6 separate regions of the Homo sapiens genome follow, and regions 1, 2, 3, 4 and 6 are each reported to be linked to region 5. Evidence: microRNA targets listed by miRTarBase, many of them from high-throughput screens and not tested one by one. Region 5 holds a microRNA gene; each other region holds the end of a gene's coding sequence.
What was found. The annotated mature microRNA hsa-miR-6878-5p reads AGGGAGAAAGCUAGAAGCUGAAG and lies in region 5 at 1,402-1,424, opposite strand. An mRNA with a match to its seed (bases 2 to 7 or 8) in the 3' UTR can be bound and repressed. Matches are read on the target gene's strand: a 7mer-m8 pairs with bases 2 to 8, a 7mer-A1 pairs with bases 2 to 7 and ends in A, and an 8mer does both.

Region 1 (5,000 bases), not on the chromosome of region 5:
GGCATTTCAAACCATGAGATGGGGTGAAACCTTCCAGGGAGTGAGAGAAAAGGTCTAAGGACTGAGCCCCTGGGTTCCCCATCATTAGGAGGTCAGATGAGAAGGAGCCAGCCATGAAGACTGGGAAGGAGTGGCTGTTGTGGGGAGGTGGGTGGTGTCCTAGACACAGGTATCTTTTTAAGGCAGAGGGGCCCGGAAAAGGATCCTTGTAGTTTGAGTAGTTATGCCTCTCTCTGAGCATGGGCAGTTCGTTGGTGAACTGACAACGTGAAATACACATGATGCAATTCCACCGTGTGTCAAGTTTGAAAGCACTCCCTGCCAGTAGCGTGTGGGAGTGTAGGAATGGCAATTGTAATGAGACATCACAGTGTAAAATTCCTGAGCTCTGCTCTAGTACAGCCTGGGGACAGACGTCTGGGCCAAGAAGGGCTTCTGTGAGACAGCATGGAACAGTGGCCTGGTCAGAGAGACTTGGGCATGCATCTGAGGGCTGTAAGCCTCAGTTTCCCCATCTGTAAAATGGAACTCTAATCGCTGTCTCCATCTGGGAGGATTTTGTGAGGATTCAGAGAAACTGCACATGAAATGCTCCACCAGGCCCAGGAACTTACCAAGGTCTCATAAACGTGAATGATTCTATAACTGTCAAGCCTCTGCCAGGGGTTCTGAATGCTCGAGTGCAGACCAGAGCCCATGGGGACGCCCCTGTGCAGATCTGCTCAACCATTTCTTTCTTTCTTTTTTGAGACAGAATTTCACTCTATAGCCCAGGCTGGAGTGCAGTGGTACGATCTTGGCTTACTGCAACCTCTGCCTCCCAGCCGGGTTCAAGCAATTCTCCTGCCTTAGCCTCCCAAGTAGCTGGGACCACAGGTGCTTGCCACCACGCCCAGCTAATTTTGTCTTTTTAGTAGAGATGGGGTTTCACCATGTTGACTAGGCTAGTCTCAAACTCCTGGCCTCAAGTGATCCACCCACCTCGGCCTCCCAAAATGCTGGGATTACAGGCCTGAGCCACCGCGCCCAGCTATTCACCCATTTCTTACTCCCCCACTCAAGAAGTCACACCACTCTTGTCATTCCAAGAAATCTTAATTTCTTTATTGTTTGACTTTTTGACTCAACAATTTTTTTAAAACTTTTTGTTTTTTTCTGAAACGTTCTTGTTGTTATGAGCCTTTTGTTTTGTTCTCGTTAAATGCACTCGACCCAAAATTGGTTTGGCATATCGAAAAGGAGACCAAGGAGGGAGGGGCTGGGGCGTGGGAGGTGGGGAGGAGGCCCGAATGGACAGAAAGTTGAGGATAAGAGAAGAGGAACATAGAGACAGCCAGAAAGACATGGGGAAAGAGTGTTGGAGACAGAGAAAGGGGAAGGCAAGGGAAAGCCAAAAGAAACCAAAATCCAGAGAAAAAGAATTAACAAGATTTAGGAGCAAACGAGTTCAGGAGCCTAAGGAAGGGAGTAGGAGAGGAAACCAAGACCCTTCTCTGTACCGTCCCAGCTGGGGTGGGGGCGTCAAGGCACCAGGTCTGGTTAGGTTGGGGGGACACCTGGGCTCTGGGGGCGGCTTTGCACTGGACTGCAGTGATGTCCAGCCCCAGCAGGGGGCCCTGCCACACAGCTCTGAGGCCTGGAAGCCACCCGGCGATGCCGGCTGGAACAGGACCCGATACACCCTCTCTCCCTTTGATTGTCCGAGTCTGGAGAGATACAAGGAAGGCTGGGCAGGGAGGAAGTTGGCCTCTCTGTGTGCCTCAGCCCCCTGGAACTCTCCTGGCCCTCCTCCTGGTGTCGGGGGCAGCCACAGGCTGGGCTGCTTCCCGGGACAGGCCAGCTCCTCGCCTGCTCATGCCTCCTGCCCGCTCTTCACAGACCTCTGACCACCCCTCCACACAACAGAGCTCCCAGCCTAGTGCAGTCCGGGAAGGGCCATGGAACTGTCCCTTGCCCTCCTCAGAGTCGTCTGGCAAGACTGTCCCTGGCCTCACTTCTCCTCCCCATCTAGACTTCACCCATGGTCTTCTGGTGTAATGGGTTAGGCCTTTCTACCAGAAAAAGCCAGAGTTGGAACCCAACCCCACCTCTTCCCCACACCTGTTCCCTTACACGGGACAAACCACCATCTTTGGTCTGACCCCTTCTCCCCTAATTGATGGGGACAAGCCAGCCCCAGCTCCCCGGGAGAAGGGAGGGGCTTTCTAGCAGCAAAAAGGGTCCCTCCAGCCACCTACCTGTCCCCTTCCCCCCAGTTCCTTCCTAGAGCCCCTCCCCCTTAACCCAACAAAGTTCATGGCAGCAGCAGGCTGAGACCCGAAGATGTTTGAAAACTCATGGCACTTGTGAGAAAAGGAGGGGCAGAGAGATGGGGAGAGGTCAGAGCAGAGGTGGAGGGGCCACCTCTGGGGAAACGGCAATGCAGGGGCTGGGCTAGGGTGGCCTGGGGCTATGCTGCCCCTAGAGTTGAGGGAAGGGGGCTGGGGAGGCTGGCCTGACAGGCTGGAGAGGAGGGGGCCGGGACAGGTGCTCAGGACACATCCCGAGCCTGGAGCTTCCGGGGTCTGGGATTTGGGGTCAAGCCGCCCAGAACATGGGTGTCCCGACCCCAGCCCTGGCACCTGGCTTCGTCTTCCCTGCGGGAAGGTGGAGGATAGGGAAGGTGATCTCTCACCTTTGCCCCTCCCCATCCCCCAGACCGCCTTGCCGTTCCCAGCACCCTCCTCAGCCATACCCATGCCCTCCACAACCCCAGTGCCTCCCCATTTTCCTTCTGCCATCAACCTCTCTAGGTGGGAAATCAGCCCCATCTTCCCCGGCGAGAGTCCCCAGAGCAATATACAAGAAGCAGGAACTCAAAGGGACAGCGCAGCCATCTTGACAAAGCATCTTTGGGTGTGAAGAGGTCTCCCCCGGGCCGGTGGGGAGGGAAGGGGGAGACAGGCCTCTGGTCCTGGGGCAGGCAGTGAGAGGTACACGCCCCAGAAGGGCTGATGATGCCGGGCAGGCGGAGCAGGAAAGGAGGGTGCCAGGAAGGAAATGGGTTCTTTGTTTCGCTGTTGCATCTAGATTTTGTTTTCTGTCTCTGGATTGTAAAAAGCTGCTCTGGCGGCCCGCCCGCCCCGGCGGGGACTGGGGATGCACGTACACGGAGAAGTCCTGGCTGCCAGGCCAGCAGCGCTGCTCTGCTCCGGAGAAAGCCCGGGCTGGCCCGGGCCGCAGGCTCCCGGTGGCTTCAAGTGATGAGATTTTTTTTCTTTTCTTTTTTTTTTTTTTTGTCTTTTTTTTTTCTTTTCCATTTCGTTGAAATATTTACAGCAATGGGGAAGGAGGAGGAGAGAGGAAGGAGTAAGAGGGCCCCCTAGGGAAAGATCCAAGCCCAGGACCCACTCCCCAGGGAGATCCAGACCCAAAATCTGCTCCCCAGATAGCCGAGCCCACAGGACTGGGAACTGCCCAAATATGGCCACCCCTGTGGGCTGGGGGCCCTGCGGGGAGTTGTGCTTCATCAGGAGTCGCCCCAAGGGAGGGGGTCATTGGGTGCACTGGGAGGCAGAGGGGGCAGGTTTGCTTGCGGGGCAGGGACCAAGAGCAAGGGGAAAGGAGCTTCAGAGAAAGTTCAACCTTTAAACCACCAGCCACCACCGCCCAGTCCCCCTGCCCTGCGGCCTTTTCCCAGTCTCCAGGGAGCAGGGAATTACAGCGCAGGAGGAACCTGTCCATCTGTCCTGCCTCACTGCTCCCTCTGGGTGCAGCCGGCAGCATTTCTGGCTGCGGAGAGGAGCAGCTAACAGGTTCCATCCAGTGGGGGCCTTTGGCAACCTCAGAAGCTGCCCCTCCCTGCCCAGGAAACTAAAGCCCTCATTTCCCTTCACAGGGTAGAAGGGTGGGAGAGGGGAGAGTCTGGAAGTGGGCTGCACCCTTCCAAGTTCTCCCTCCTCACTCCCCTGGGGTCCTCTGGGCTCCTCCTCACTACACTTCCCCCAAATAGAGCTGGTGCGTGTGGCTGGTGGGAAACCCTGTCTGTGAACCCTGGCACCTCAGGCCCCCAGGTTAGAGTCCCCTGAGGGGACTGTAGGGCCCATGGCTGAGGGGCACCTGGAGAGAGTGGCCCACCAGCCACTGCCTCCATCTGTCTCCCTCTCCCACCAGAGCCCTGCCCAGGGTTCCCTCCCTGGCCTGGGCCACCAGCCCCTGGTCCATGAGGTGCCCTCAGAGACTGGTGACCAGCTGCATCTGCCCGTCCCCATCGGGCCCTGGCCCCTCAAGGCCTGGGGCTGCCAGGTAGCCCTCGTGGCTAGGACGCCGCACCTGGTAGTAGCCCTGCAGGGGATTCCGGGCCACCAGGGCTGGCGGGCGCGAGGTGTAGTAGATTTCGGGGGGGCCGGGGGGTGCGGGAGGGGGTGGGGGCAGGGCCTCACTGGGCCCCTCAGGGCTGCTGTCCGGGTAGGAGGGTGAGTCCCGCAGGTTGGCCCCGCTGGCATAGAGGGAGTCCCGGCCAGGAGGGGAGGAGAGGGGCCGGCTGGTGGCGCCGTCCTCGGCCGTGCAGCTCTCCGACTCGTCCAGATCGCTCTGGTACAGCACCGACTGGGCCCGGGGCAGCAGCAGAGGCTCCTCCAGGGCCTTATAGAGAAGTTCAATCTCGGCCCGGTCAGCACCCCCGGGCCCGCCCGCCTCTTCCTCGCCCCCGCCCCCTGGCACAGGTGGCACAGGGGGCTCAGGCGGTGGAGGGCCCTTGGCCGCGCTGCTGCTCCCCCGCAGGTTGTTGTGCACCAGCTCTGAGATGATCATCTTCTCAAAGGCCGCCGCATCGGCTAGGTTCCGGCCTCGGGGCGGCTCAGGGCCCCCATCCCCGGGAGGGAAATCCCCACTTCGCAAGGAGTAACTGTTATTGAAGTTGCCGTTCAGGGGCAGGGTGTCCATGCCACAGGCTTCCCGGCCTCCCAAGGGGTGCTCTGCAGGGCAGAAAGGGGCTGGTCAGGTTGAAGAGGGGCCCTGGA
Region 2 (5,084 bases), not on the chromosome of region 5:
CAGACCCCACTGCAAAATAGGTTGGCAGTCTAATTCCGAGAGGCCTGGCGTGCCCAGGCTTGGGGGTGTGGGGGTAGACAACCAGGAAAATAGATCAGGCTGACTGGGGGAGGGAGGAGAGCGCCTCTGTGGGGTAGGTTGTCACAGCATGTGGAGGCTGGGGGGCCACAGGCTAGGGTATCATGGTGGAGTTGGGGTGTCACCCCTGTGGGGGAAAGGGCCAGTGCCCTGGAGCCTGTGCCGATGCCATCGTCTCCCCTTTCTCCCCAGATCTACCTGTCCTGGAAGAGCGGGCCAGGGGAGGTGAAGCACTGGAAGGACATGATTGCCCGTCCCCGGCAGCCCGTGGCCCAGTGGCACCAGCTGAAGGCCTGAGTGGGGCCAAGGGAGGCCCAGGGGGCCGAGGGCCCAGGTCCCCATCATGCCCTCACCACTTTATGCACAACGCCCGGCCTGAGCCCCCTGCCATAGGGAGGGGAGGACCCTGAGGGCTCAGCCAGGGAGGGGTCCCAGGACTCAACTGGGCCCCGTTTCTAGGAAGTACCAGCCCCATCCCCCACAGTCCAGCTCCGGGGAAGGGGCTCTGGGAGGCATTTTCCTGCTTTGCCCCTTTTCTTCCTGACTTACTAATACTAAAGAAGTTGGGGGAGCTCGAGAGCCAGACGGCCAGACAGGCAGACCCCTCCAGAGGCCCGCCAGGTGGGCATGGTCCCCCATTTTCTTTAAGGCAGCACCTGGAGTGGAGAGAGGCCACTCCCTCTCCAGCCCCCGATGTGGACCCGGGGAGGGGAGGCTGAGGCGTTTGGCCCCGGCCTGGCCAGGAGAGGCCCATCCCCAGGGCAGTTTCAGGTGCCGGCTGGGCCCTGAATGTCGAGGATAGTATATAGCCCGCTCCTGGGTCCTGGAGCTGTGGCCCTTTGTACTCGTGTTGTGTCCATTGTGTGTGTGCGTGGGGACAGAGGCCTGGAAATGCGGAGGACTATACAGAGAAGGCAGGTTTTGTGAAGGCCAGGCAGGGTTGGAGGCCGGGGGTGTGAGAGGAGAGGCCCATAGGGCTGAGTGGGGTCGGGTGAGGCAGAGGTCAGAAACAGAAGAGCTGCAGTTGCTGGAGCTGGGCTGAGAACTGGGCTGCCTCCTGCCATCCCCCCGTCTCCTCCCCTTCTCCCCTTGGTGCCCCCCTCTGCTCAGAATCTGAAGTAGTTCCCTCCTCAGCAATTTCATCTCTTGAACACTGACTCACACCTTTTAGGCACCTACTGTGTGCATAGCATTCCACCAGGACTCATCTCCCTTCCTTCTCAGGGGGTCCCGAGCCCCGACTAGCTTTGCCCTAACTCCTTCATCAAAAGACCCCCCGCCAGCTTCCCACACCTCATACGCAGCCACATCTGCCCTATTCTCCATGCTTTCCAGCTTGCCTGCCCTTCCTCATCTCTCCCTGCCTGTGCAGACCTCCACCCTTCTTTCCTCCACCCCTCCATCCCCCAATGCTTGTAGACCTTCCATTCATTCCGTCTCATCGTGCGTGGTCTCTGATCGTCCATCACCTGACCTTCTCCAGGACTGTCTTCTCACCCTTCCCCACTCCCTGGTCCCCGGGAGCAGCTCCTTCTGCCCGACTCACTCACAGTGCAGGGAAAGGAGGCAGGGAAAAGACCAGGATTCTGTGAGTTCTGAGGTTGCCACACACAAAGAAGCTGTGGTTTCTCTGCCTCGGCCACTGATGAGACTAAAACTGGCTTCCCCTTGGAGACGGCAGATTTCAGGCTGATCCCTGCTTAAGCCCTCTCATCCCCACGCTGGTCCTGGTATTGATACAAGACCCAGCTGGTGACAAAGCCTCCAATCCTGGGGGTCCACGAGCCTGGGCCTGACATTCCCAGAACTACCGCCAGGTGGCGCCAGGCCCCCACAGTCTGTGGCCGTGGTCTTAGCCCCCAGTTCCACTCTGGATGGGCCTGTGACACCCCAAAGAGAAGAAGGGGACTCTGGATAGGGTCCCCACATCCAGGGCGTGGGGAGACCATTGGCATTTGGGAACCATTTTCCTTCGAACGGCTTCCCCTTGAGCTGAGCATTCTGCTTGCTGCAGTAGACGGGTCGCCTTTTGCCCATACCGAAATTTTCTGAAATTAAATCGCACACCCCCACCATTTCCTCTCCCTGGGATCTGGAGGAACATCATACATAGTAGGTGAATCGTTTTGTAGAGTGAAGAATGCTAATGTAAAGCAAATAGTCACCCACGTTCCTTGTAAATCCAAATGTTTCTATATTGTAGCTTTGCTTAAAATGGGGTCGGCCCCAACTGCATCCTCCTCTTTGGCGGGCTGGGGAGCGGCCCCCAGCCGGGACGGGAGGGCAGCGACCCCGAGGCCTCGTGGACGTGGGAGAGAGTGTGGTGGGAAGTCTTGAGCGGAGGAGGGGATCTGCCCTTCTCCACTCCTCTCTTGGATCCGCCTCGGTTTCCTGTCCCCCCACCACCCGCCTGCCCCGCGGAAGACCGCCCAGTGAGCCAGCCCCCACCTTCCAGGCGCCTTCGCCCTGGGGATCCAACCAACTTGTATCGAGTGGGCGGGGCAACGGCTCCCCATTTTTCCCGAGCCCCGCCCACAGAGCTCTTAGCCAATCCTATGCAGAGAGCATCTCCTGGCAGGGGTCTCTTCCCAACCAGACCCCACCCAGGCACATTAGCGACCAGGCTTGGGCTTCCCCAGCGCCCCACCACCACCACGTGCAGGTGGAGCTCTGGGATGCTATGTTGGGGCGGCAAGCGGTGGGCCGAGGGCCGGGTAGGCTAGCACGGGAGGTAAGGGTGGTATGGGATGGGGCGGGGGCGGTCTAGGGCAATAGGAGAGCAGAGAATGGGGGAACTTGAGGGTGGGGGGAGGGCACCGGAGCCTTGCCACCATCCCAGGACTTTGGGCAAGTCACCCGCACTCCCTGGGCCTCGGTTTCCCCATCTGTAAAATGATGGTAATAATACTTCACCTACCTCATAGGGGAGGTTGTGAGGCCACCATCACCTGACCTGGGGGTCAAGGCAGGAGGACTCCGAAGGTGCTACCCGTGAGCAAAGTGTAATTACCGAATCCTGACTGCAAGGCCCACCTGCCCCTCCCCCACAGAGCCTCCAGAGCTAGCTGAGGCCAACGCAGGCCCATCCGTCTCTTCACTCTGTCGCAGGCCCTTTCATGGGCTTCGTCTGCCATCTTTGTGGGTGCCCTAGACTTAGTCCTTATCTTGTCCTGGTTTCCTTTCTTGTGACCATCTCCCCATGAAAGTGCTGTACAAATTCCACCCGCCCCAGGACCCCCGCACCTGCCCTCTGGCACCAGATGCCAGGGAAGGGACAGAGGAAAACAGCCACAAACAAGCCAGGGGGGCTCCCCGGAGCCCCAGGGGTGGGGATTGGTGGCCACTGTTTGTATGTTCTTGAGTGCAAGTGTTTTATAAAAAATAAAACAAAAACCCACCATCACAAAAAAAAAAATTTTGCAGCGAAGAGAAATGAAGAAAAACTGAAGAAAAAAAAAAAACAGGAAAAAAAGAACCATACAAAATTTTTCCACCACACATACCCTCTAAGCCAGCAAGATTTCCTCTTTGCAAAATCATATTTTTGTGGGAATGGGCCCTGCTTTTTGTGGCAAGGCCTGTTCTGATTAATAAAGGATCGTGAAAAAGTAGGGCCTTGGCTGTTTCCTCCGTGGGTCCCAGCCCTCCCTCACCTCCCTGGGGGCAGAGGCAGTGGGGTGAAGGGGATGGGGGCCCCGGGGCTGAGCCTCCCCTCAGTGTGTCACCTTTGGGATTTGACTTCACTGGTGACCAGGCCCTTCCCGAGTGTCCAGCCATCCTCAGATCTCTATAGAATATGATCCCACTGGCTTCCCAGAAAGCAGAGAGGCAGCTACATCTCCCAGATCAGGCCTGACACAAGGCTTTTTGGGAGTAGAGTCCTCTCTAGGCCTCAGGGGTGCCCTCCAGGGTCACCCAGCCTGACGTCCCCTCCCTCAGTTCCCAGAGGACACTTGCCACCCTCCAAGGCAGCTCAGACAAACCAAAGGGGGACGCTCCAGCTTTCCCACCACCATCCATGGGGCCACTGTAGTTTCAGGCCAGCGCCTCCTTCCTGGTCCCTGAGGTGGGAAAAGGAAAGACAATGAGCTCTGTGTCTGTTGGCTGGACCTGCGGCTTCTCTCAGCCCTCTTCTAGTTTCATTCTTTAGGATTAGAAAAGTCTCTTCCACTCAATAGAACAGGTTCCAGCCTGAGGTGTGGGAAGCTGGGTTGTAATCCCTTCTGCAGCCTCTGTGGCCCTGGGCAAGCTCTTTCCTTCCACCTGTTTCTTCTGGCCACAACAAAGCAATAACCATCCCCATCCCCTGCCCTTTCTTCCCCACCCAGCCCAGGGGAAGCTGAGCCCCCGCAGCTCTCAGGGTACTTCAGAAGGAAGGTGCTACATCTGGTTCAGACACAGGCACAAAAGGAACGAGCACATCCCCATTGTCATGTGTCCACCTGCTGGCCCCTGCCCCCACCAGGAGTGAAGCGGGCCATCCCATCCGCCCTCTGCTCCCAGCACTTGGGGCCAGCAGCTGCCTCCCGGAGCTGCACTAAGTACCCCATCCAAAGCTGTCTGTCCCTCATTTCCCACAACCTGGTTTAGATATCACTTCTGATCTCTGTTCCAGAGATCAGAGGAAGCCCCGGGGTCAGGTAAGTAGCCTCAGGGGCTCCCTTGGCCAGAGCTTCTGTTCAGGCGCTCTCCATGAAAGCAGCCCTGGAAAACTGAGCCTGAAGTCAGAGACAGCTCAGGCCCAGCACAGGGGGCAGTCCCTTGCCACTGGCTCGGGCCCTTCCCTGGACTTTTTGCCTTCCTCCATTTTTGCTTCTCTGGGTCTGTCTTCGTCCATGCCTGCTCTGAGATGCTCCCCCACCCCTCCCTGTACCTGGGACCACCGCCCTCTGGTGTTTTCTTTCTCCTGTGAGTCCCCCCCTGGATACTGCTGCTTTCTGGAAGGCTGTCCTGGGTTACGTCCTGCGCTCCTCTCCCTCCCACGCAAAGACAACCAGAAGGACAAG
Region 3 (5,079 bases), not on the chromosome of region 5:
TCACCTGGCTCCATTTAGAGGCCTGTGAGCAGCCAGTCCGGCCAGCATCAGCCCCAGCCCCAGCCTCAGCCTCAGCCTCAGCCCCAGCCTCAATCCCAGCCTCAGCCTCAATCCCAGCCTCAGCCCCAGATATGCGGCTAGGACGGGTGAGCAGCAGCCGCTTACTCTCCGCAGAACTGCTGTATGAGGATGTGTTTGCTGTGTGGGAGGTGATCTGGGCAGCCAGGCACATCTCATCGGAGCACTTTGTCCTGTTCATCGCCCTCGCCCTGGTGGAGGCCTACCGAGAGATCATCCGTGACAACAACATGGACTTCACTGACATCATCAAGTTTTTCAATGGTACGAGCTGGTCCAGCCATCCAGGCTGCCCTGAGCAGAGGTGTGGAGGCCCCCACCTCTGCCCCGCACACAGCTGGAGGGTTCTCAGGAATCCTGGGGGCCCTTCCCCAAAGGCCGGGATGTCAAGAATCTAGCAGAGCAGATGGAAACAGAGCAGGGTAGTCAGCCACCTCCTAGCCTGCTGCCCTTTCTCTGGGCCTCTCTACAGCTCTTCACGTTTCCCCCCAGAACGTGCTGAGCATCACGATGCCCAGGAGATCCTGCGGATTGCCCGGGACCTCGTCCACAAGGTGCAGATGCTCATAGAGAACAAGTGAGCTGGGGCCAGGAGGCAGCAGCCGTGCAGAGCCTGGGCTCCGGCAGGGAGAGGTGCAGGGGAGTCACCGCCCAGACCTCCCCAGCCACCAACCGACCCCACCTCTGTTCCTAACAAAGCGGTTGTGAGCCTGGATCCGACTCCCGGCAGTGCTGACCCTGCAGGGCAAGTCAGGGGCCAGGATGCCCTCGGATCAGGGCCGGGATGGGAGGGGTCAGCCTCAGGGAGCAGCTGCCTTGGGGGACACACCTACTCTGCTCCCCTCTCACACATCTGGGAGTAGCCCCACTGCCACCTGCAGCCGCAGCCTGGACTGCTGCCCACGAGTGAACCTGGGGCCCCACAGGATTAACAGGGGCTATAGCGGCCTGGGCCCTACTCAGCTGGGGTGGCAGAGGGCGAGAGGCTCTGTGCTGTGTCCCTTCTGAGGGTCCCTTTGCAGTCCCAGTATATTGTGCGTGCACCAGCCCCAGCTGGAGCAACCAAAACTGCTTCTGGTTTAGGCACACGTCACGGGTGCGGGAGACCCGGGCACGGGAGACCCGGGCCGCCTTCAGGCCGCTCCCCCGAGATTCTGGGGCAGTCGGAAGATGTGGGCCCTGGGTGGGAGCAGCCCACTTCAGCAGCACTGCCACTGCCTTTGGCCACCTGAGGTGACCCCCAGGCCTCCCCGGCCTTGTACAGTGTACCTCTGTGTATCTGTACAGCCTCGCTCCTGCCACCCCACCCTTGCGTTCTGCATTAGGTACTTCCCTGAAAACCACGTGTAAGAAGTGATGCTTTTGCCAGTGGATGATCTGGAATGCGACCGGAGCACTTGCTCTGAGGAATCCCAGGGTGACTCTGTCGGGGAAGAATCCGGTCACAGCCTCCCCTCAGAGACAGGCCTCAGTTCGAGGGCAGCCCATTATCTGTCGCAGACATCTGCCATGTCCCTGAGACTGCGGGAGGCAGGGGATGCATGGGTGTCCCCATCTGTCCCTGGTGAGAAGCAAGGCTAGCTCTGCCTTCCACATGCTTCTCAGGATGCCAAGAGGCCTAGGAACCCAGAAACCCCCTTGGAGGAGCTGTGTATGCGGGGGTGCCAGGAAGGGCATAGCTCCTGCCCCCAGGCCTAGGCATGCTGCTTGCTCGGCCATCCCCACTTCCTCCTCTACCCCAACACATGCAGGCTAGGCCTTGCCCTGGAACATGGAGGCCCTGCCCGGGGCTGGGGCCTAGTCCAGCAGCCACCAAAGTCTGGCAGACTTTCTGCATTTGAGAAACATGACAAAGGGCCCCGCAGCCCTTCTGCACCCAGCACAGCCTGCCCAGCCCAGCCCTGCCCCCGGGCACTGCACAGCCTGTCTGGGGGCCAGACCACCCCATTGTCCATCCTTGTTGTCCGTGAGTCCTTGGCCTCCACCAAGCACGTGTGGCCATTGTGTGCCTGCCTTAGTGACTCCGTGGTTTTGTGAGGAGCAGAGTGTGTATGATTTTTGCCTCAGAAACTATACTCTTCTGTGTAACAGACCAATAAACAACATTTGTCAACACTGGAGCCTCTGGGACTGGACACTGAGAGACCACGTGCCTTCTTTAAGCTCCACAGTCGGCCAGCCCCAAAAGGCGAGGACGGCAAAAAACTAAAGTTTCCAAGAGAGGTACTCCAGCCGCCAGTCTGGAGGGTGTGGGCTGGTCAGGAAGTCAGGGTGATTTGATAGCCAAACCTCAAGTACTCAGCGCCCTTGAGGGGACCTCACCCCAGAGTCATGGCCCCATCTCACGATGACCAGTGGCCCCTCTAGCCTGTGGATGAGAGAAGGTCCCTGTCCCATCCCTACCCCCTGCCTGCCCTACTGACCAGGCTGCAATGAGAAGCTGGAGCTTGACTATGCCACTGCAGCTGATGGCAACGGAGCTGCCCCTGTGGGTGTGGCTCTCACCCCGAGCACTGTCTGAGAGGCCGGAGGGGAGTGTCAGGAGGAGTCAGACCCTGCTGAGCTATAGACAGGCCCAGCTGTAACGGGTCTGCACCTCTCTTCCTGCCCTTCCCCAACCCGAGTGCTACTGGTCCCATCGTCGATGGCTCCAGGGAGAAGACACCAGTCACACAACATGTCTTCTACCCTAGAGGACACTGGCTTCCTGGACATTAGGGCCTGTTTTCCACTCACTCAAAGCTGAAGACCCCAGCCCATGGTCCTAGCAGGCTGAACCCAGCTTTATTATACAGAGAGAGAGACAGACAGATAGACAGACACAGAGTCTTGCTATCTCTCCCAGAATGGAGTGCAATGGTATGATCATGGCTCACTGCAGCCTTGAACTCCTAGGCTCAAGCGATCCTCCCAACTCAGCCTCCCAAGTAGCCAGGGATGCAGGCCCCCATCATGGCAGTTTTTCTATCTTTTTGGTAGAGGCAGAGGCTCACTGTTGCTCAGGCTAGTCTTGAACTCTGGCCTCAAGCAGTCCACCCACTTGGCCTCCCGAAGTGCTGGGATTACAGGCTTGAGCCACTGCATCTGGCCCTGAACCCAGCTTTTAGGAAAGAGTGCAAACTAGTGGCCAGAGCTACCCAAAGAAACCAGTTGGTGCAGAGAGAGCTCTGGGGCCAGGGAACTTGATGAGCCCTTCAGGGGAACACCCCCGACCCGCCAGCCGACTCTGTTGCCTGGAGGAGTCAGAATTCCTTTGCTGTGACCACCTAAAGGAAATTTCACCTAGCCTGGGAGTAACCCTTCACACACTTCCGTCCTGCCCTACTCCCCCTGACTACTGGACTGGGATCCTGGGACCAGAGGGGATCCCACAGCTTTTCAAAACGATGGGACAGCTGGGGCGGGAAGAGCAAGCAGCACAGTGGGCTCTCCAAACACCATCTCAAGGAACCTTTGCAATCTGGAAAGTCAGGTCTTCCTCTTACAGAGCAGGAGCTGGTAAATGGAAGCACCTGGATTCATACTTTATCCTGACCACAGGCCCCTTTCTTATAAGCTCCAGCTGAGCCATGGGTGAGTGAGAACTGTGGGTGAGGGGGAGCTTTGAGTACAGCTTCTGCCTAAAGATTTAGTGACAGCCCTCAGATGACAGCCAAGTTATCACTGCCTGGGGAGGGTCTTCATCTGTGTTCCCAGTGGGCACAGGGCCTGGCACTGAGCATGCACCCAGGAAGGGTTAACCCTCACCCTATCCCTTCCCTAAAGCGTCGCTTAGTGAGCTAATGGAAGTGACCCAGCTCTTCCAGGAGCTACCAGCAGAGGGAGCCCGCGTCTCACAAGTAAAAAGGGCAGGCTCAGTAGGGAGGGCTGGATTCCGAACTTTCATTTTAATTAAAAAAATTTTTTTTGAGACAGAGTCTCGCTCTGTCTCCCAGGCTGGAGTGCAGTGGCGCAATCTCGGCTCACTGCAGCCTCCACCCCCCGGGTTCAAGTGATTCTCCTGCCTCAGCCTCCTGAGTAGCTGGGATCATAGGCATGCACCACCATGCCCGGCTCATTTTTGTATTTTTAGTAGAGAAGGGTTTTTGCCATGTTGGCCAGGCTGGTCTCGAACTCCAGACCTCAGGTGATCTGCCCACCTAAGCCTCCCGAAGTGCTGGGATTACAGGCGTGTGCCACCGTGCCCGGCCTGAACTTTTTGAAGTCAACTCTTCTCTTTCAGAAAACAGGACCCAAGACAGCACTCCCTTCCTCAAGGATAACCCCTACCCACCCCACCTCAGGAAGAGACGCAGAGTCAGTCTCCCCTGTGGGGACTGGGAGTCAGTCAGGTACTGTCAGGGTGGAAATGAGAAGCTGGGCCCCCTTGCCCAGCCTGGTCTCCAGCAAGGCCTAGCTAGTGGCTCCCTGACCTCACTTCCCACACCACCTCCTCCCATGACAGCCTGCCCAGGGAGAGAAGACACAGCCACAGGGACAAGGGGCTTCCAGCCCAGCTGAGAACACGGCTCTTTGCCCCTGACCTCCAGCCTCTTCTTCCCCTTGTTCCTTTCCCTTAGAGGACAGCTTTATGGACTCCCCGGCTGACCTGTTGTAACTGCACCCCCAGAGCAGCCCCTCAGGAAGCTCTCACCCTCTGTGCCCAATCCCTGGGGCAACTCCCCTGTACCTTTTTTATTGGATCCGAGTCTAGGACTGGCCCCAGGTGCCACAAGGGTGGCAGATGCTGGGTAAGAACTCTGTACCCAGTTCAGAGGTCTGACTGCAGCTCCAACGAAGTCTCCAGCTAGCCGTGTGGCCTCAACAAGTCACTGGGCCACCTCAATCCTGTTTCCTTATCTGCCAAAATGGGGCTAAGTCTGGCTTATTTACTTCACTTGGCTGTTGAAAGATGAAACAAGATAATGCTTGTAAAATGGTCTGAGGAAATACGAAGCTTTGCAAAAGTTTCAGACCGACCAGAACTGCCATTTTCAGAGCGGCGGAGGCACCGGGTCAGAG
Region 4 (5,076 bases), not on the chromosome of region 5:
ATAGCCTAGCACACAGTAGGTGTTCAGCCAATGGTCATGGAACAGAACCTTCCAATTATGGCAGAAATCAGTTAGTTTTATTCATTATCAGAAGCCCAGTGCTATAGCTGAAACACTGTACTAGGTCTCAATTTCTCATCTTTAACTTCTGGCATTTGGCTTGCTTTCTTCACAGAATTATGAGTCAAAATAAGACACTGTATATGGAAACACTTTCTAAAGATCATGCACACTATTCTCTTCCTAACCCAGGTAGAATCAGGTTGTGGTTGGTGGTAGGTTACCTAGGTATTCCTAGGGCATTTTGGAGGGATCTTCTAATAAAACAAGTGGTTTTGTTATGTTTCCACTTTCTATTTTCTTTTGAGACGGAGTCTCGCTCTGTCGCCCAGGCTGGAGTGTAGTGGCACGATCTCGGCTCACTGCAACCTCTGCCTCCTGGGTTCAAGCGATTCTCCTGCCCCAGCCTCCCAAGGAGCTGGGATTACAGGCACGCACCACCACGCCCGGCTAATTTTTGTATTTTTAGTAGAGACAGGGTTTCACCATGTTGTTCAGGCTGGTCTCAAACTCCTGATCTTGTGATCCGCCTGCCTTGGCCCCCCAAAGTGCTGGGATTACAGGCATGAGCCACCACGCCCAGCCTTCCATTTCTAAACTCCTTCAACTAATAAATAGCATCTTCATCTTTGAATCCCTTATGTGCTTTGCAAACTGCAGTCTACCTTAGTTACTCAGTAAACATTTGTCAAACAAATGTTAGAATACTGCCAATTCAATCCATTGGCAAGTTCTGCTGTGTACTTGCAAAACATATCCTGACTCCAATCACTTCTTATCCCCATCATTACCGTCTTAATAGAAGCCACCACTGCATTGTTGCTTGCCTGAACAACTGCTCTACCTTCCACACCAGTTTCTCAGCTCCTATTCATCTCTTCACCAACAGGATCAAAACAATCAGAGTAATTTTTAAAAATCAACCAAATATAAATTAGACAATGTCACTTCTCTCCTTAAAATCCTGCAATGACTCCTCCACTGTACTTACTGAATGCAGATTATTTAAATTATACCTACAAGGTTCTACATTAGAGACCAGCAAACTACAGCCTGCAAACCAAATCCAACTTGCCACTTGTTTCCTGTAAATAAAGTTTTATTGGAACATAGCCACATACTGTCTATGCCTGCTTTTGCACTGCAATGGAAGAGCTGAATAGTTGTTTTTTTTTTTTTTTTTTTTTTTTTTTTTGAGACAGAGTCTCGCTCCATCACCCAGGCTGGAGTGCAGTGGAGTGACCTTGGTTCACTATAACCTCCTCCTCCCAGGTTCAAGAGATTCTCCTGCCTCAGCCTCCTGAGTAGCTGGGATTACAGGTGCGCACCACCACACCTGGTTAATTTTTGTATTTTTAGTAGACAGGGTTTTGCCATGTTGGCCAGGCTGGTCTCGAACTTCTGACCTCAAGTGATCTGCTCTCTTGGGCCTCCCAAAGTGCTGGAATTACAGGCATGATTCGCACCCAGCCAAAGGGCTGAATAGTTATGACAGAGACCATACATGGCTTGCAAAGTCTAAATATTTACTATCTGGCCCTTTATAGAAAGAGTTTGCCGACTCCTGCTCTACATGATCTGTCCCCTATCTCCCTCTTACAGGATCTTCTATCCTCTTTCCCAGCCCCATCCATTTATTACATCTTAACCAAGCTTTTTCTACCACAGAGTCTGCAACGTTCAAGAATGAATTTCACTCACATCGTCCCAGGACTGCCTCCTTGTCACTGAAGTCTCAGTTTAAATGTCAACTCCTCAGAGACTTTTCTTGACCAACCAATCTAGAGTGGCTCCTTCAACTGTCTTAGTCACATATCTGCTATGAAACAATTAACATGGCAATGACTATTTAAAATTATATACTAGTTTAGTTCTCTCCTCCACTAGAATGTAAACTCCATGAAAGAAGAGACCTTACTTTGCCCACCCCCAATCAGCATTCTAATCACCATAAGCCCAGCACCAAAAACAATGTCCAGCATTGTTTTTGAATGAAAAAGACCAATAAATAGTTGCTGAATGAATGAGGCCAAGGTCAGGAACACCACTCAAGTTCAAGGCAGTTTTTAATGTTCACTTGCCCTGCTGCAGGTTTGCCTTCACACTGTCCTGACTGCAATCATAAAAAGCGAAGGAAGATCAGACAGTATTCCTGGCCCCATTATCATGGGCAAAACAACTCCACCAAGGGCACATTCTCCTCAGATAAAAATGGCATTAGGAAAACCAGGCAAGGCAGGGCCACAAAATTGGACAAAGAAGTTCTCAACTTTATGATTATTATGGTTAAGAATTTTATTATCAAAATTATTACATCTCTTGTGAAAGTTCAAATGTTACAGCAAGGTGTAAACACTCCACTTGAGAAAGAAGTGATACTTCTTCCCTTCCAAGAGTTCCCCCCACCCCCCCGCCCCTACCCCCCCAAGAGGTCTGGTCTTGACAGCACCCTGCCCACACAGAGTGGCTGGGGTCTCTGCACGTGCCAGGCAGGGTGAGGGCCGCCTGCCCGCTGGCCTCTCCCCTTGGTTAAATAGCCAAGGGGAGAATGCAAACCCCAGCCCAAATGGAGAGACATTTACATACGTTTTATATAATATACAAAGAAACCAGCATCCCAGGCAACATGATTTCCACTCCCAATGCTCTCCCAGACTGATGGGTTTGTGGGGGAAACAACAAAAAGAAAAGTACTCTGCTGAGGTCTCAGCATTTAAAAAAAAAAAAAAAAAAAAAATCTCCCCTCATTTGAGCAAACACCTGATTTCGATTTTGAAAAGTGAAATTTTGTAACAGTCACACACAAAGAGAGAAGACTGTGCATATGATAGTTGTAGGACAGGGTAGAAAAGAAGGGGATGCAAGAGGCTGGGGAAAAAAGGAAAACAAATTAGAGGGAAGGAAGGAGGGAAACTCACAGTATTATCTTGTCCAAAAGAAAAGAAGGTCCACTGCAGCACCAGGGATTACACCTGTCATATATTCACTACCCCTACCATGGTTATAACTGAATACAAAATTAGATAAATAAAAACACGCCAGATATTACAGTAAACAAGTGAAAGAAATAAGCTGGCAACCATATGGAATTTAAAAAGATTGTGTACCCCACCTGGGCTGGCTCCAGGGCTCCTCCAGGGGTGTACAACAGGCACAATGCACTGATGGGGAGAAGCCGGTCTGCTCTCATCTCTCATCCAGAACAGTGTTAGGGGTGTGGGTGGCTTGGTAACTCTTTCACTGGGCCCACTCTCACATAAGCATCCCCCAGAGAAATGTGGGGCAGGCCCACACACAATCACAGTCCTGTCGGTGCCACTCCACAAACCTATCTTCCCACTCTTACCCTGCAGTCACAAGTGCATGCTCCCCAATCATGGAGGCGGTCCTGCTCATGGGATCATCAACTCCTGATTAATTGGGAGTAGAAAAAATAAAATTCGAAGCATTCCCAAACCACTCGGTATCCTTCCTAATGAAATTTATTGCCAAAAGCTGGTAAGTAGCAATGCAATTGGCCTATATCATGTCTCATTCCTCCTTTTCTTGTCTACTTACTTCATGGGTTACTGAGCTGTGAAATAGCTTGGGAAGGGGGAGTAGGATGGTAACAGTTGGAGGCTCAGACAATCTACTCAAATAATCTGCTCCCGAATAATCAAGAGCTGACCATGAGCTTTTCTTCAAAGAGCCAGGCACCCTCCAGTTGGTGCAGGTTCCAAGCTTTACTATCCTTGCCTATTTCTTGGTGATCTTAAGACAAAGATAAACAGTATTCTTGGTGGACACACATTGGCCAGATACCTGCTTTTGGAATGGTTGTCTTAGGATGAACATTTACATACCTACCTTTTTTCTTAAGTGCATAAAACCCTAACAGTACTCAGATGGCTTGGGGCTTTGAGATTGGCTCTTTTAACTTTTTTTCCTTTGAAAACTTTTTTTTTTTTTTTTTTTAAATTTAAAAAGATGTCCTCACTGCACAAGTGACTACGGGCTACAGGCAAGGATGGGAGACGGAGGCTTCAACACAACTCATTGCACTTAGAACCGTTACTAACCGAAACACCATTTGCTTGTCAACAATGTACCCTTGACAGCAGGGAGAAACTTCTTTATAGTCTCTGCTTCAGACAAGATTTACAGCTTTCTCCAAGGCCAGAGGCCAATTGTGACCACAAGTCTTGTTTCTTGTCCACCAGACCCAATCCTCTGGCACCTTGTACCCCCCGTTCCTCAGCAATATGCTCGGCCTAGGTTCCAGAGGCAGCTGGAAGGAAGCAGCTATGGGCTCATTCAGTTCTGTTTGCCCAAATCCAGAAGCCCTAGGAAAGTCCCGTCTGAGTCTTGACTCCTGACCCTTGCAGTGGCTGGAGTCGGTACTGGTGCACACCCCCACTCCCACGGTGTGGGTAGTGCTGTGAATTGGAAACCGCAGATACCCTGGAGGCCTGGTAGACAGCTGACTGCCCAGCACTGGGCAGACTGATAGTCCGTAAGTCTGATGGCAATGACGACCTAGAGTTCTGAGGAAAGGAGGTGGAACTCAGAGTTCCTGTGCTGGACTGAGAAACTGAATCTGAGGTTGGCGAGTCTGAGGGTCCCTGCAGGGTAGGGCTAGCAGCACTAGAAGGGCAGCTCCTCCTTGGAAGATTGCTGCCAGTGCTGTTTCCAGAATGTGGCTGGCTGCTAAAATACCCTGGTGTCCCCGTAAATGGGGCCAACGAGTCTGTGGACACAGGGTGGGCGGGGCTGGAATAGGACGTGGAAGAGAGGGATGATTCTGAAGAACCGTGAGAGGGGGGGTTTCCAGGTCTCAGTGCAGTAGTTCGATAACTGTATCCTGGAGACTGTGTAGGATGTCCTCTGAAGGGGGAGGAACTCTGCTGAAGGAGGCTTTGTGATTCTGTCCGAGGACTATCACACTGCAGGAGCTAGACAAAGTTGGGAGGAAACGAATAAGGACGCGAACAAGTCCCTTAAATGGCTGGTGAACATTTATAATACCCTACATTC
Region 5 (5,084 bases):
CTTTTCTTTTTTTTTTTTTTGAGACGGAGTTTTGCTCTTGTTGCCCAGGCTAGAGTGCAATGGCACGATCTTGGATCGCCACAACCTCCACCTCCCAGGTTCAAGTGATTCTCCTGCCTCAGCCTCACAAGTAGCTGGGATTACAGGCATGTGCCACCACGCCCAGTTAATTTTGTATTTTTAGTAGAGACGGGGTTTCTCCATGTTGGTCAGGCCGGTCTTGAACTCCCGACCTCAGGTGGTCCACCCACCTCGGCTTCCCAAAGTGCTGGGATTATAGGCGTGAGCCACCATGCAGAACGGTATTTTCATAAAAAGCATGCCCTTTACTAAAGGTATTTTCCCTGTGCCTGTCAAATGGTGTTCATCTTCCTCCTGGACCACGCCCCCTCTCTCTACAACCCTTCCCTGTATGACCCATCCAGCTTGCTCACACCCTCCTGCTCCACCCCTCCACCCCCCTTAATACTGACATCATATTAGGGCATCTGAATTGGCTTCTGGGCCCTAGCAGGCTGTCCAGTGTGTGCCATCAAACGGGTTTTTAGAATGTGGGGACAAAGTTTCTTTCTCCTGTATTCCCCGCTCAGCTTATGAGAGTACAGGGCCAGGCTCAGTGGCTCATGCCTGTAATCCCAGCACTTTGGGAGGCTGAGAAGGGAAGATCACTTGAGATCACCCTGGCCAACATGGTGAAACCCTGTCTCTACTAAAAATACAAAAAGTAGCTGGGCATGGTGGTGCACACCTATTATCCCAGCTACTCGGGAGGCTGAAGCAGGAGAATTGCTTGAATCCAGGAGGCGAAGCTTGCAGTGAGCCAAGATCGCGCCACTGCACTCCAGCCTGGGCGACCGAGAGACTTGGTCTCAAAAAAAAAAAAGGGGGGTGCCGACAGAAAGTATCACCTTCCGATTCTCCTGCTCATCCCAGTGAAACCAGGAATTTTTTTTTTTTTTTTTTTGAGATGGACTCTCGCTCTGTTGCCCAGGCTGGAGTGCAGTAGTGCAGTCTCGGCTCACTACAACCTCCGCCTCCCAGGTTCAGGCAACTCTCCTGTCTCAGCCTCCCGAGCAGCTAGGACTACAGGTGTGTGCCACCACACCCAGCTAATTTTTGTATTTTTAGTAGAGACGGGGTTTCACCATATTGGCCAGGCTGGTCTCAAACTCCTGACTTTATGATCCATCTGCCTCAGCCTCCCAAAGTGCTGGGATTACAAGCGTGAGCCACCATGCCCGGCTCAAAATAGGAATCTTAACCTAACTCTGTCCCACAACTGACCGATAGCAGCTTCAGTCCTCCAATCTGTCCAGTATGCCGAAGGTGGGGGCCCTGGCAAAGGTCAACCAATGTGCCACACCTAGGAGAAAGAAGAGGCCAGTTAGTGATTTTCAGAATCTTCAGCTTCTAGCTTTCTCCCTCTCATGGTCTTTAGCTGACAGAAGAGGTGAAGAGAAAGGAACTGTCCTACTGAGAGAGGGCAATGGCAGATAAAAATCAATTCCCTGGCAGGGCGCGGTGGCTCATGTCTATAATCCCAGAACTTTGGGAGGCCAAGGTGGGTGGATCACGTGGTCAGGAGTTCGAGACCAGCCTGGACAATATGGTGAAACCCCGTCTCTACTAAAAATATAAAAATTAGCTAGGCATGGTGGTGCATGCCTGTAGTTCCAGCTACTCGGGAGGCTGAGGCAGAAGAATTGTTTGAACCCGGGAGGCAGAGATGCAGTGAGCCGAGATCGCGCCACTGCATTCCAGCCTGGGTGACAGAACAAGACTTCATCTCAAAAAAAAAAAAAAAAAAAAAAACTAGCCAGGCATGGTGGCACATGCCTGTAATCCCAGCCACTCTGGAGGCTAAGGCAGGAGAATCACTTGAACCCAGGAGGCGGAGGTTGCAGTGAGCCGAGATCGTGCTACCGCACTCCAGCCTGGGAGACAGACCAAGACTCCGTCTCAAAAAAAGAAAAAAAAAAAATCAATTCCCATTCCCATTTCTTTTTCTGGAGCAACACAAATTACCTTCTATCTTTCTTCCCTTATCGCATTTCTGGCCTTCTTCAATGCTTCCCCACCTCTCTGTTTGCCTTAATCTTGACAACTCTTACCCATATACTGTTGCTGTTGGACCTGTCACTTTCTCCTCAATCAAGTGAAGCTTAAAGGGGTTATCCTGGAAAAAGGTAGAAGGGAGATTGAAGAAAAGTGTTTATTCCCACAAAGATGTCCTGGAAGAGCCACCTCTTCCCTCCACCCCACCTTGAACAACTGGCGAAGCTGATCCCGTGAAGCCTCTAGCCTCCGGAAGGGTCGAGCAGCAGCTGTAAGTTCCTGGCAAATCCGCTCCAAAACAGGCAGCTCTGAGCCCCGGATTGTCCTGGAAAGAGGAGAATTGGTTGGGTTGCATCCTATGAGGTGCATCAATCACCTGGGTGACACACCTGTTGGCTAGCGGGTAAGGTCCTGTCCTTCAAGAGAAATCTAGAGTTATAGGCAAAGACAGACAAACTCAGAGAAAATATAAATAGGATATCAGGTAACAGATATTACAGCTGGAGAAAAAGCTCTATGCATGAAGTTAAAAGTTGAATGCAGGAAATCTGGATAGACAAAGTTAGAACAATAGTAATGAGGGCGATTAAGTAAAACTTGAATTTATGAAAGCTAACAAGTAACAAAGTAAGTTGTTTCTTCTTTTTCTTTTTGTTTTTTTTTTGAGAAAGTGTCTTGCTGTGTCACACAAGTTGGGTGCAGTGGTTAAGATCATGGCTCACCACAGCCTCAACCTCCCAGGCTCAAGTGATCCTTCCACCTCAGCCTCCCAAGTAGCTGGGACTACATGTGCACCAGCCAAGAAGGTAAATTTCAAGCAAAGTTAGAAGAGGGACATGGACTAGCACAGAAGGAGATACTAATGTCATAGTTGAGACCTAGAGAAACCCTTCTCCTCCAGCTTCCTCATCCAAATGGAGCATGCCCAAGGCCCCTGAAAAGAGCCTCAGAAACCATCCCAGAATCATTCTCCTCCTTCCTTTCATTACTCACCTCTCCTTTCCCAGGAAGAAATCATGGTAAAAGCCATATTCTGTACTTGGACCTCTGCAGAGAACAGCACCTAGGAATTGTTCAGCTGCTGCCCCCAGGACATGGGTGCTGGAGTGCCAGAACACCTGGGTTCACAAAAAAGGGGTTCACAAGTTCATAAACTTCTCCCTTAACCCCTAGATCTCTGAGCTCTTCCTCACAAAAGCTGGTAGGAAAGCCGGTATGGTTCTTCTAGGAATAACTACCACAAAATGGGGATCCTAGATTTTGGGGGTGACCACTAAAAAGTAACAAGCTTAAAAAAAAAGGCTGGGCACAGCAGCTCATGCCTGTAACCCCAACACTTCAGGAGGTCAAGGCAGGCGGATCATCTGAGGTCAGGAGTTCGAGGCCAGTCTGGCCAACATGGTGAAACCCTGTCTCTGCTAAAACATACAAAACTAGCCAGGCATGGTGGCGTGTGTCTGTAATCCCAGCTACTCAGGAGGCTGAGGCAGGAGAATCACTTGAACCCGGGAGGTGGAAGTTGCAGTGAACCAAGATCGCGCCACTGCACTCCAGCCTGGGTGACAGAGTGAGACTCCATCTCAAAAAAAAAAAAAAAAAAAAAAGACTGAATAGAAAAGAAAGAAGGCCAGTATTTTTTCTTCTTTCAGTGCATAGAAGCTCCAGCCCCACCCCTCAATCCTTGGTTCTTCCCAGTTCCAAAGCATAGAAGCTGGAGGCCAGTCAGTCTTCTGCTGCTCCTGTAAGCTTTTAGGGCTTCAGAATAATTTTTCTTTTTGAGACGGAGTCTCGCTCTGTCGCCCAGGCTAGAGTGCAATGACGCGATCTCAGCTCACTGCAACCTCCGCCTCCAGGGTTCAAGCAATTCTCCTGCCTCAGCCTCTCAATTAGCTGGGATGACAAGTGCTCACCACCACGCCCAGCTAATTTTTGTATTTTTAGTAGAGACGGGGTTTCTACTATGTTGGCCAGGCTGGTCTTGAACTCTTGACCTCAGATGATCCACCTGCCTCGGCCTCCCAAAGTGCTGGGATTACAGGCGTGAGCTACTGTGCCTGGCCAGAATAAGCTATCTTCTTAACACAGTGGTTACTTAGGTCTCTGTTTGGTCTTTTAGTCCTATTTTTTTCTGTCCCACGAATCTAGTGCGATATATTCCTCTTGGATTTGGTCACTATTTACACATAGATGGCAGGAGAACTCTATTTTTCTGGATCCTAATAGGCAAGGTCTGTGCTACCTGAGCTGACATGAAGAAGACAAGGTGGGGAGGTGACCAGGTTGTTTGCTCAGCTGTATAAGCCATGTTAGAATTGAATATACACTACAGATGACTTATAATGTACGTGCTCAAGAGTTGAGGGGGCTGAATTTACATATTTATCCTTTCGTTTTTTCAACATATCATCTCTCTCCCTCTCACTAGCACAAATGTTTGCTTAATAGATCGAAGCTAAGTTAAAAACTTTCACCATAAGTTTCCTAACCAGAAATAGTCAAGACAGTCTGTGGTAGGTCTCCCTCCCAACTGCAAATGGAGAAACTGCGGCAAAAGAATAAAATGTTAGAATTTCCTGCTTCAATATCTCTTGGTTTAGTAGTCACTGTATTCCTGATAAGAAAGAAACTTACTGCTTTCCCCTCTGGGGAATCGAATGTCAGAAATCTGAGGTCAGAATCTGTCTCCAAGGGCCGCTCCAGATCATAAGGTTCTCCATTCACTTGAGCAGCCACTGCAGTATCTGCCAGTGTTGAACTTCAGCAGTGGAAGGTGGGGATGAAGAAAAAGACAGGGTTACAAGGCACAAAAAGGAAAATATCACATGTTCTGATTCCTATATGAGAGTTTAAAAAGTTGATCTCACAGTGGTAGAGAATAGAGTGATAGTTACCAGAGGCTGGAAAGGATGGGGGAGGGGAGATGAAGAGGTTGGCTAATGGGTACAAAAATAGAGTTAGACAGAAGGAATATGCTCTAATGTTCCATAGCAGAGTTGGGTGAATACAGTTAATAATAATTTATTGTATAT
Region 6 (5,084 bases), not on the chromosome of region 5:
GAAAATAAATCGGGTGACATCAGATTCTTGTAGGCAGGCAGGTTTTATGAGAACCCTGGTATCAAATTCCCAAAGTAAAGAGCACACACCTTTCAGCTTACCACTGCACATCCCCACTGCCCAGCACAGTGCCTGCCACATAGTTAGTGCTCAAATATTTATTCCATGTTTTTGCATGTGCTGGGACTGGCCATATTTATTACAATAATTGGATTTGTAAACAGTAAAAATCTCATTTTACATCTGAGAAAACCAAAGTCAGGGATGAAGTGAAATGCCTGAAATAAAATAGCTTCTTAAAACTGGGCCTCAAGCTTCCGGTATTCTTTCCACTGTACCACTTTATTGATGTGTATGATGTAGTGTTGATTTTAGCCTGGCAGGTAAATGTTACTTGTTTGTAGAATAAGATGTGACCATTCATGCCACTTGAAGGAACCGTAAGGCTTAGATTCTTTAACCATACTTTTTATTACTTTGTTTAGGCATAGGTTTAGTCTCTCTTATCAAGAGATCAGAAGCTGAATGTGGAGGCAGAATGATAGAGCAAATGATAGAGCGGAGCAGTGCTGCTAAGCAGCTAGGCATTTTTCTAGGCACTTCTCTGCTGAGGCTGTTTTAAGTAGGTGGACACCCTGTAGTTCATATATTTGCATGTTTATAGTTTGTAACATACAGAACATGCTTAGTCAAGTATAGATATTCTTTGTAATTAACCCTCAGAATAGTATGTATTCTGATCCCTTGTTCTTTATTCTCCAGGCACCATACAGGAAGATTACTTGAGAGAGCTGCTGACAACCATGGGGGATCGGTTTACAGATGAGGAAGTGGATGAGCTGTACAGAGAAGCACCTATTGATAAAAAGGGGAATTTCAATTACATCGAGTTCACACGCATCCTGAAACATGGAGCCAAAGACAAAGATGACTGAAATAACTTCAAATTCCAGCCAAACGTTCCTTGTTGCCACTTTGGGTATTCTGAGATTTTCTCTTGCATGCCCTTAGCTTTACAGCTTTTGCATTTCCTGTTGTATTTATTCTCAGCCATTTTGGGCATATGTATCTTTATAATCAGACTGGAAACGGGACTTTCTATTAATATCATTTTCAGAATAAAAAATAGGATAATTTAACCTACCAGCCCTTCTCCCCCAATAACTGTGGTCTATACAGAGTCAATATATTTTTTCAGAGAAAGTTATTCGCTCGATTTTTTCTGAATCATAATTAAACTTTATGATAAAATACTTACTTGTTTAAACTTCTTATTTACCAAACTTGGCTTTTGTTGGTTTCAGTCGTATCTCCCAAAGAAAGGTAGATGAGGGAAATCCTAGAAAATGATATGGTTGTTAGCTTTCTCTTCCTCCAGTTTTCCTAACAATCCTATCTCCTCTACTATCCATTCCTCCTCCTCCTCCCAAGGATATCCAATTTTAACTGCCCTAATCAGGTTTTCTGCACTTTGTCTTCCAATTTTTAAAATAATTTCCTGTAGAATTTGCATATATGATAGTTTCCATAGCTTTAAGTCCTTAAGTTGACATACCTGCCAACATTTCCACTTTATTTAAACTTTTGTAATTTCTGGTCATTTAAAATTAGACCAGGTTACTGAGTATAATTTCAATTTGTCATATTTTTAAAAACCATTTTGGCTTAAAGGTTCTGTGGAATGCTACCAAAGAGAGATTTTTATGTTATGTTTTAAAGTGCTGGAAATATAATGCAGTATTTTTTTTATTATATGTAGTTTTTCTTTAACACAGCAATGTGTATTGAAAGATATTTGTTTATGCAGAGATTCACCATGAGTCCATGTTTGAGTTTTGGACATTCCTGACCTTCCCACAATCAAAACAGCTGAACCTGCATGCCTGGGAAAGTGAGGTCATTATTTCAGTCCTAAAAATAACTTCTACTATTTGCAGAAATGCAGAACTGTTTCACAGTTAATCAGGGAGTGGCAGACAGTTTCGTTCTTTTTCAGCTTTAAAAATCTGACTCTCAAAGGGCTTCAAGATTCTCTTTTTTTTCCAGACAGGGTCTCTCGCTCTATCACCCAGGCTGGAGTGCAATGGCACGATCACAGCTCACTGCAGCCTTGACCTCCTGGGCTCAAGTGATCCACAGCCACCTGAGTAGTTGGGACTACAGGCAGGCACCACCATGCCTGGCTAATTTCTTAATTTGTTGTAGAGACAAGGTCTCATTATGTTGCCTAGGCTGGTCTAAAACTCCTGTACTCAAGTGATCTTCCCACCTCTGCCTCCTAAAGTGCTGGGATTACAGGTGTGAGCAACCATGCCCAGCCCAAAACTCTGACTCTCAAAGAGCATGAGTTTTAAAAGATTTGAAATGGAGAAAAATTTGGTTGAAAAGATTTGACAATTAGCCTATGAAGATGAGTAATTGACAATTACTATAATAACTTTAAGTTTTATGCTACGATTAACATGACTCTCCTTGGACAAAACCATTACCTCATTCAGTAAACAATTACTAAAAGCCTTCTGGGCAGCAGGCCTTTGCAGCCAATAAGATAGATCAGCTAGATCCTGTAACGTGGGAAGGCCAGTGCTATAGGAATAGAAGGACTAGTCAAAGCTAGTCCTTGACCTCTTCAGCATTAGAATCTTAGAACCTGCCTTCATTCTTTGTCTTTTGTTTCTGAATTTTATTCACTGGTTAAGCCAAAATACTTTTTCCAGGCTATGGCCATGGTGCTAAAATCTTGTTTTTTGAATTGAATTTCCATGTCAAGAGAAAAAATTATCATATGCTTTGTTACATCTCTAGTGAAGAACAGATAGCATTGTTTGCACTATATGAAAAACAAGGTACTACTAAAAGGATCTCTTGCAGGGCCCCTGTTTCCCTTTCAGATAAGTGCTTAATGAACCAACTTGCATTAAGAACAATGATGTACCCTGAATGAAATAATTCTCCTAATTTAGTAATAGCATTCTTTGCTTAAACAAGAGTGATTGCCAACAGAAAGGTAAAAGCATCCATTTCAATGGTGTGTTTGACTGAAAAATCAGTCTCAAAAGTTTCCATGATGAAAGTCATACTTAAACCATTTCAAAAGATCTGGCTAGGCACGTTGGCGCACATCTGTAATCCCAGCACTTTGGAAGGTCGAAGTAGGAAGACTGCTTGAAGCCAGAAGATTGACATCAGCCTGGGCAACAAAGCAAAACCCCATCTCTACATAAAAATTAAAAATTAGCCGGACATGGTGGTGGGTGCCTATAGTCCCAGCTACTCTGGAAGCTAAGGTGGAAGGATTGCTTGAGCCCAGGAGTTTGAGGCTGGAGTGAGCTGACTGTGCCACTGTACTCCAGCCTGGGGTGACAGCGAGACCCTGTCTTGAAAAAGAAAACAAAAATCGGACAAAACCAGCCTAATGGGGGTGGCATCCTTATCCACCTGCATATGATGATATGGTCATTTTGATTCCAGGCCCCAAATTTTACTTGATGAAAGAATCTATAACTTGATGAGAGCAGGAATTGAATGCTCCTGGGAAAGAAAGGAGGAAGGCCTGAGCATAAGAGACAAGTAACAGCAAATTGAGAAGGAAAGGAAACCATTTGCTACAAAGTGAAAAGAGGAAGGACAGCAAGAGGCTTAACACCTAGACTTGAGGATCAGATAAAAAATGATCAGAGTTTGGAGAGGTAAATAGAGCCACAAAAACAGTCTTACGGAAACCTAGTTAATTTCAAGAGTAAGGAGGTTGGCAGTGTCCAACACAGAAAAGTGGAGTATGGGAAGGTTTAAATGAGACCCTCCCAGATGTGACAAGTCGTTAGTCATGTTTGCTAGAGTTATTAGAGTTCTGAGTGCAGAATCCATAATGCAGCACAGGATAGTGAATAATGCCTAGGTGTGGGGTCAGGCAGACCTACACTTAATTCCCGTTTGTTGCTACGTCATGGCTCTATAACCTTAAGTCAGTTATTTAAACTTCCTTGGCCTATTTATTCATTTATAAAACGGAAATAATACTGTTGGTTCATATTAGGAACATAATATATAAAGCAGCATTTGTGTGATTAAGAGCAGCACGGATTTGGAGCCATACTTAAGTGAATTGCACCTGCCTATTTGACTTTGTGTTCTTAATTGCCAGTTTCCTCATCTGTAAAATGGCCAATACCATCCAAGTTTCTTCTGAAAATTAGAAGCATGAAAGACAAATGGTCTGGGACACATTAGGTCTCCAAATAGTAGTTATTTTGTTTACGAGTGGGCCAGTGAGAAGGGGCAAAGGGCATATCTTCAAATTCAAGCCTGTTTATAGGCAGAGTAGAAGACAACAAACTAGGGGGGAACAATTAGTGAAACAAAATGGATCATGTCTAAGAGCTAGGATGTGACAGAACCTAGACCACGTAGGATTGCCCTTAGAAAAGTGGATGGATTTCAAGGTAGAATTTCATTAACAGGTTGTTAGGAAGATTTTATAAGACTATGCATACAAATGCCTGTCAGTTTGGTACTAGTGGATTCTGAAATAGTTCACTTTCGATTTCCTGAGCAGGTCCAATATGCCAGACTTGTGTGTGTCGAATTAGGTCCTCTTCACGGGTACAGTTTATTTTTTCTGTCCATAAAGGGATTGTAGTAGCTAATCCCACATTGAAGAAATGCCCAGTTTTCCCATTGCTGCTTATTCGAGTCATTTCCACTTGCTCTTCCATCTTCCAAGTCCCTATATCTTTTTAGTCTAGATTTCTCTGTGTCTGCTCAAATAGCAGGAAATGTGACTTTTCTCCAGTATTTATCCACACACATTTTAGAGTTGTAATGAGTTTACAACTTGTTTTTTCGTTTACTACTTAAATTATATCTCATGTTTTGGCATAGCCACCATTGTTTTGAGTATATTTCTTTTTCAACCATTCTTAACTTCAGTTATCTTTGATGTGGGCATGCTATAATTAACAATTTCCCAATGATAGATATTTAGCTATCCAGCTATTTTTATTAGTGAATAAATTTTTATTCATGATTAAACAAAGCCTATTATAGGCTTTTCTTTTGCATCTAGAGAGAACAATATACCTTAG

Region 1: the mRNA of ADGRL1 is a reported target of hsa-miR-6878-5p. Seed matches in the 3' UTR shown: 7mer-A1 at 3,888-3,894 and 7mer-m8 at 2,186-2,192.
Region 2: the mRNA of SYT7 is a reported target of hsa-miR-6878-5p. Seed matches in the 3' UTR shown: 7mer-m8 at 1,160-1,166 and 7mer-A1 at 3,916-3,922.
Region 3: the mRNA of SGSM2 is a reported target of hsa-miR-6878-5p. The part of its 3' UTR that is shown has no 7-base or 8-base seed match.
Region 4: the mRNA of SETD5 is a reported target of hsa-miR-6878-5p. Seed matches in the 3' UTR shown: 7mer-m8 at 4,163-4,169, 7mer-A1 at 4,071-4,077, 7mer-m8 at 3,228-3,234 and 7mer-m8 at 2,603-2,609.
Region 6: the mRNA of MYL12A is a reported target of hsa-miR-6878-5p. Seed matches in the 3' UTR shown: 7mer-m8 at 1,151-1,157.

Annotation. Positions count from the first base shown.
Region 1 is chr19:14,146,661-14,151,660 of GRCh38, forward strand. ADGRL1 (adhesion G protein-coupled receptor L1) reads right to left here. Exons shown (of 23, transcript NM_014921.5): 23 at 1,083-4,955. The coding sequence ends at 4,213. All of the region lies in intron 1 of ADGRL1-AS1 (ADGRL1 antisense RNA 1), which reads left to right. Among named protein-coding and RNA genes, the nearest start is that of ADGRL1-AS1, 12 kb to the left of the region's middle. RefSeq lists an enhancer at 1,218-1,961.
Region 2 is chr11:61,513,918-61,519,001 of GRCh38, reverse strand. SYT7 (synaptotagmin 7) reads left to right here. Exons shown (of 13, transcript NM_001365809.2): 13 at 271-5,084. The coding sequence ends at 375. Among named protein-coding and RNA genes, the nearest start is that of LRRC10B, 7.7 kb to the right of the region's middle.
Region 3 is chr17:2,378,862-2,383,940 of GRCh38, forward strand. SGSM2 (small G protein signaling modulator 2) reads left to right here. Exons shown (of 24, transcript NM_014853.3): 23 at 175-342; 24 at 571-2,193. The coding sequence ends at 659. Among named protein-coding and RNA genes, the nearest start is that of MNT, 20 kb to the right of the region's middle. RefSeq lists an enhancer at 3,960-4,169.
Region 4 is chr3:9,475,401-9,480,476 of GRCh38, reverse strand. It overlaps SETD5 (SET domain containing 5), which reads right to left. Exons shown (of 23, transcript NM_001080517.3): 23 at 2,323-4,994. The coding sequence ends at 4,386. Among named protein-coding and RNA genes, the nearest start is that of LHFPL4, 76 kb to the left of the region's middle.
Region 5 is chr1:150,488,690-150,493,773 of GRCh38, reverse strand. MIR6878 (microRNA 6878) reads right to left here and starts at 1,429; the gene lies at 1,364-1,429. TARS2 (threonyl-tRNA synthetase 2, mitochondrial) reads right to left here. Exons shown (of 18, transcript NM_025150.5): 3 at 4,687-4,810; 4 at 3,049-3,173; 5 at 2,263-2,380; 6 at 2,112-2,176; 7 at 1,285-1,363.
Region 6 is chr18:3,254,984-3,260,067 of GRCh38, forward strand. It overlaps MYL12A (myosin light chain 12A), which reads left to right. Exons shown (of 4, transcript NM_006471.4): 4 at 763-1,253. The coding sequence ends at 935. It overlaps MYL12-AS1 (MYL12A and MYL12B antisense RNA 1), which reads right to left. Exons shown (of 4, transcript NR_130145.1): 3 at 1,259-1,339; 4 at 453-855. Among named protein-coding and RNA genes, the nearest start is that of MYL12B, 4.6 kb to the right of the region's middle.